2 separate regions of the Homo sapiens genome follow, and region 1 is linked to region 2. Evidence: fine-mapped expression QTL. A gene starts in region 2. The other region holds a variant in brackets. All regions are shown on one strand. Distances are from middle to middle.

Evidence for each region. PIP is the estimated chance that this variant, and not a neighbour inherited with it, causes the effect. A credible set is the group of variants that fine-mapping cannot tell apart.
Region 1: its variant is the best candidate, but not a certain one, in a credible set for the expression of TAF2 in whole blood (INTERVAL, PIP 0.72).

What each region holds. Positions count from the first base shown.
Region 1 is chr8:119,801,440-119,803,939 of GRCh38, forward strand. It overlaps TAF2 (TATA-box binding protein associated factor 2), which reads right to left. Exons shown (of 26, transcript NM_003184.4): 5 at 2,439-2,500; 6 at 355-586. Among named protein-coding and RNA genes, the nearest start is that of TAF2, 30 kb to the right of the region's middle. The variant G/A (reference allele first, on the strand shown) is at 1,103.
Region 2 is chr8:119,831,751-119,834,643 of GRCh38, forward strand. It overlaps TAF2 (TATA-box binding protein associated factor 2), which reads right to left and starts at 1,091. Exons shown (of 26, transcript NM_003184.4): 1 at 732-1,091. The coding sequence starts at 814. DSCC1 (DNA replication and sister chromatid cohesion 1) reads right to left here. Exons shown (of 9, transcript NM_024094.3): 9 at 2,226-2,893. LOC105375728 (a long non-coding RNA gene) reads left to right here and starts at 1,129. Exons shown (of 4, transcript XR_928590.3): 1 at 1,129-1,326. RefSeq lists enhancers at 743-792, 853-1,212.

The DNA of each region.
Region 1 (2,500 bases), 31 kb before region 2:
TTTTTTTTTTTTGAGATGTCGCTCTGTCATCAAGGCTGGAGTGCAGTGGCACAATCTCAGCTCACTGCAAGCTCTGCCTCCTGGGTTCAAGCCATTCTCCTGCCTCAGCCTCCCGAGTAGCTGGGACTACAGGCGCCCACCACCACGCCTGGCTAATTTTTTGTATTTTTAGTAATGACAGGGTTTTACTGTGTTAGCCAGGATGGTCTCGATCTCCTGACCCTGTGATCCGCCCACCTTGGCCTCCCAAAGTGCTGGGATTACAGGCATGAGCCACCGTGCCTTGCCAATATCTATCTTTTTAAAAGCAGTAAAGGGCCAGGAGGAGAGTAAGAGAGGAAAGCTCTGACTTACCTCATGCATGTATGGATCTACCAGTATTTCAAATGGTCCAATGGCCAAGGAGATATTTGACGCTGCTGTAGGAATGGTAAGCATATAATGGAAAGTTTTCTTCCTCATATCATGAGTATACACTGTCTCCACCAAATCGCCATTAGAAACAGCAACCATTGCAGCATCTACTGTAAATTCTAATTTCCATGTACACAATTCAGAGTATGAATCAACACAAGGGAACCAAAATCTAGAAAAAAGATTGACAGTATAGAAAATGTATTCAAAGAGTTCTCTACATTGTTTTCCCCACATGCAAGTTATTTTAGCATTTCTAGAAAATGAACAAACAAAACCTTTAGCTATTTGGCTACTGAAGCTTTTTACTGTACAACCTGAAAAAAATCTGATAAAATAAAATCTGTTTCCAAATACTATTTGGCAATATTAAGAAAATATATTATGTGGTACCATCAGTTCAAACCCTAAAAAGAGTTAAGCAATTCTTAGCTTTCAGTGTTTTAAAAAATAATTTTAACTTGTATCCGCATATTAGTCAGTTTTTATGCAGCATTCATTTCTAGAAACTAAAAAAGGCTCACAGCAAAAAGTTTTATAAAGCATAACTAACATTCAGAATTTATTCCATTAAATTATAAAACTGCTTTTTTGGAGTATGTAACGTATTGTATAAATTCAAACTGAGTGCTGGTTAAGTTAGATATAAAATTTATAGTCAGCTTTCATCAGTTCAGTAAGGTGTTAC[G/A]TGACAGGGTAGGTACTTAGTATTGAAGCACAAAAGTGTGTAAGACATTATCCCTGGTTTAGAGAAGTTATTATAATAATCTGAGGACAGGCTGGGCGCAGTGGCTGACACCTGTAATCCCAGCACTATGGGAGGCTGAGGCAGGTGGATTACCTGAGGTCAGGAGTTGGAAACCAGCCTGGCCAACATGGTGAAACCCTGTCTCTACTAATAATACAAAAATTGGCCAGGCATGTGGCATCTGCCTGTAATCCCAGCTACTCCAGAGGCTGAGGCAGGAGGATCACTTGAACCTGGAAGGTGGAGGTTGCATGAGCCGAGATTGCATGAGCCGAGATTGCGCCACTGCACTCCAGCTGGTGCAACAGGCTATCTCTACTAAAGATATGACGAAACCTGATCTCTACTAAAAATAAAATAATTAGCCAGGTGTGGTGGCACATGCCTGTAGTCCCAGCTACTTAGGAGGATAGGTAGGAGAATCACTGGAACCCAGGAGGTGGGGATTGCAGTGAGCCAAGATTATGCCACTGCACTCCAGCCTGGACAACAGAGTGAGACTCTGTTTCAAAAAAAATAAATAAATAAGCAGAGTTGAGTAGTAGAATGTGGAGTGGGGAAGTAGAGTATGAAAGCAGGTGAGAGGAGGTCTCTATAATCTTGTAATATTCTTTGTCTCTAGATGTAAATTATGTAGGCTTGTTCACTTGTGAAAATTCATCGAGCTTTACATTCTGTGCAATTTTCTGTATGTATGTTTTACTTCAATATAAAGTTTTTAAAAAAGAAGGAATCAAGTGAGATGATTATTTTAGAACAGTAGACATGAAAATGAGAGAGAAGAAGGGAGATGTAAGATTGAGGAGGGGTCGGGCATGGTGGCTCATGCCTGTAATCCCAGTACTTTGGGAGGCTGAGGCAGGCAGATCACTTGAGGTCAGGAATTAAAGGCCATTCTGGCCAACATGGTAAAACCCCATCTGTACTAAAAATATAAAAAATTAGGCAGGTGTAGTGGTGAATGCCTGTAATACCAGCTACTTGGGAGGCTGAGGCATGAGAATCACTTGAACCCAGGAGGCACAGGTTGCAGTGAGCAGAGATAGCACCCCAGTGTATTCCAACAAGGGTGACAGAGCAAGACTGTCTGAAAAAAAAAAAAGAAAAAAAAATTTTTTTTTAAGAGGAATGACTAACAGAAAGTAATTTGAAAGAAGTCTAAATTTGGAAGGGAATAAAACTAGTATTTCTTGTTTTACACCAAATGTATGTCTTGCTTATACATAAAAAATGCAATTTAAAAATTAATTGAAATATTTAAGAATCTATAATCTACCTTGTAGAATTTTGATACCCACAAGAGAAAACATGAGCACCTCTCTCTGCCATACTTCCCTC
Region 2 (2,893 bases):
AAGAAAATAAGGAAAAAATAATTTTTATTATTAAATCAAAGTATAATTCTATCCAAGTATAAATTAGGACTATGTTCTAAGTAATTCAAAATTACATGTCAATATTTCATTTTAAAACTACGAATTGGGGCCTGGTGCGGTGGCTCACGCCTGTAATCCCAGCACTTTGGGAGGCCACGGCAAGCGGATCACGAGGTCAAGAGTTCGAGACCAGCCTGGCCAACAGAGTGAAACCGAGTCTCTACTAAAAATACAAAAGTTAGCCGGGCATCGTGGCACACGCCTGTAATCCCGGCTACTCAGGAGGCTGAGCCAGGAGAAAAGCTTGAACCCGGCAGGTGGAGGCTGCAGTGAGCCGAGATCGCGCCGTTGCACTCCAGCCTGGGCGACTGAGAGACTCCGTCTTAAAAATTAAAAAATTAAAAAAAAAAAAACACTCTACCAATTGGGATAATTTTTTAAAATCTAGCAACAGTCACGAAAACAGATTTGACAGAAATACAATCTAGTACTTAGACAAAAACTTTAGTAACTTGCAACGGGAATTAAATTTGCTGAATAACCTGTCATTCAAAACATTTTTACCTTACAAACACCATTTCCATCACAGTGAGTAAATTCTAGTTTCCCACTAGGTTTCCCAGGCCCACCAAGTCAATTTCAAGCAATCGCAAAATATAATTAATGGCAACAAAACCAAAAGGAAGGAAGGGAAATGAAAAAATACTTATAATTTATATGGCCTTGGGCTTTCAAAGCCCTTGTCTCCTTTCTTCCTGTTCATTCTGGCGGGCTCTACACCAGTCAGCGGCATGAAGCGGTCCCGCGGAGCTTGGCTTCCCGGCTTCCTAGGGGGATACGGGGCATTACTAGTCTTTGGCACCTCACACTCTCCACTCCCCTGCGGTCCCCAAGTCACGTCTCGCAGCTGGCCGGTGCCCAGGTGAGCGACCTGACGGGTCGCTGCCCGCCTCAACCTCGCTCCTTCGACTAGCTCCTAGAAGCCGCCGTCGACAAGCTTCTGTCACAGAGATGCTCCTCTCCGCAAGGGCTCGAAGCTACCATCCGCCGACATCTTGTCTGTAACCTCTGACCTCCGACGTCAGCGGAAGTGGAACGGCGGCGGGGGTAGAACCAGGAAGTCTTGTCAATGGGCAGGGCTTGCGATCTTCGCATGTGTCTTATCGTAAAGAATTGTTAAAATTTAGGATAGGGAAAAAACTATTTAATGGATGAAGCGAGAACAGCAGGAAGAAAAGGAGGGAAGGTAGTTTTCTAGTACAAGCATATTGAGAAGAATGGAGGACAAAGTTTGCGAAGAGCCAGGTATAAATAGGCTGGGGCAGGGTGCTAGTAACTGGGCGGGGTGGGGTGGTGGGAAGTCTCCCGAAATCAGGAGGTGCGTGCCTCTGGCTTGCTGTGTGAACAGACACACTGGGTCCGGTGATTTAAGCTGTAAAATATGTGATTAGACTGCAGGTAGTCTAAATGTCAAAACTGCAGCACTCCACAGCTCTCACTAGGCACTGCTGCCTTAGTATTTATTTTAAAATATAGATTACAAGGCCGGGCGCAGTGGCTCACTCCTGTAATCCCAACACTTTGGGAGGCCGAGGCGGGCCGATCATTTGAGGTCAGGAGTTCGAGACCAGCCTGACCAACATGGTGAAACCCCGTCTCTACTAAAAATTACACAAAATTAGCTGGGCGTGGTGGTGCACGCCTGTAATCCCAGCTACTTGGGAGGCTGGGGCAGGAGAATTGCTTGAACCTGGGAGACGGAAGTTGCAGCGAGCTGAGATCGTTCCACTGCACTCCAGCCTGGGCGACAGAGCTGAGACTGTCTCAGAAAAAAAAAAAAAGAATAAAATATAGACTACAGGCCAGGCGTGGTGGCTCACGCCTGTAATCCTAGCACTTAGGGAAACTGAGGCAGTCATATCACTTGAGGTCAGCAGTTCAAGACCAGCCTGGCCAACATGGTGAAAGCCCGTCTCTAGTAAAAATACAAAAATTAGCCCTGCGTCGTGGCGTGCGCCTGTATTCCCAGCCACTCGGGAGGGTGAGGCACCAGAATCACCTGAACTCGGGAAGCCGAGTTTGCAGTGAGCTGAGATCATGCCATTGCACTCCAGTCTGGGAGACAAAGCGAGACTCCCTCTCAAAATAAATAAATAGACTACATAGAGATATATAGACTGTGTATATATATCATATAATCCATATAAATGCAGAAACATTTATTGAAAGACATTTCGAAGCCATCGTGTTTGTATTTCATGTTCATGACAATAAAACTTGTAAACTTCAGTAACAGTTAAACCTTCTTTAATTATGGATTAGCCATTAACATTTTTGAAACGTGGACCATTTAACCTCGGCCTACCCCCTCCAACTGTCCTGGTGATGAGTTCATTAGCTAAGTTAAAATTAATTTGAACTTTGATCTAAACCAAAACAAATCAGGAAAATAAAGCTGTAAAGGAACTTTATCAAGCATTCCAAAACCAACTAGAAATTACTTGAAGTTTTCGAGTGAGCATTGCCTGTGCCAGTATTCTTCATTATAGGATTATAAACTCGTTTTTTTCCCAAAGCGCATGTCTACGCCAGGCAGAGGAGTAATTATTCAGCCAATTTCATGGATGTAAACGATGGATATAAATAATTGATAGCACCTAGAGGCTTCCAGTTTGGGTGGAAGGCTAAAAGTAGAGGGGAACTCACTCACTTGAGAAATGATATTTAAGTGAATAAATAGTTCTCTTCTATGAAACTATTACTATTTAGTTCTCTGGAAAACTTAAGTGTATTAATGATTAGAACATCAAATCCTAAGTAAAGAAATGACATTTTAAATATAAAAAGCCAAACTTTAAATAAATCATAGAGA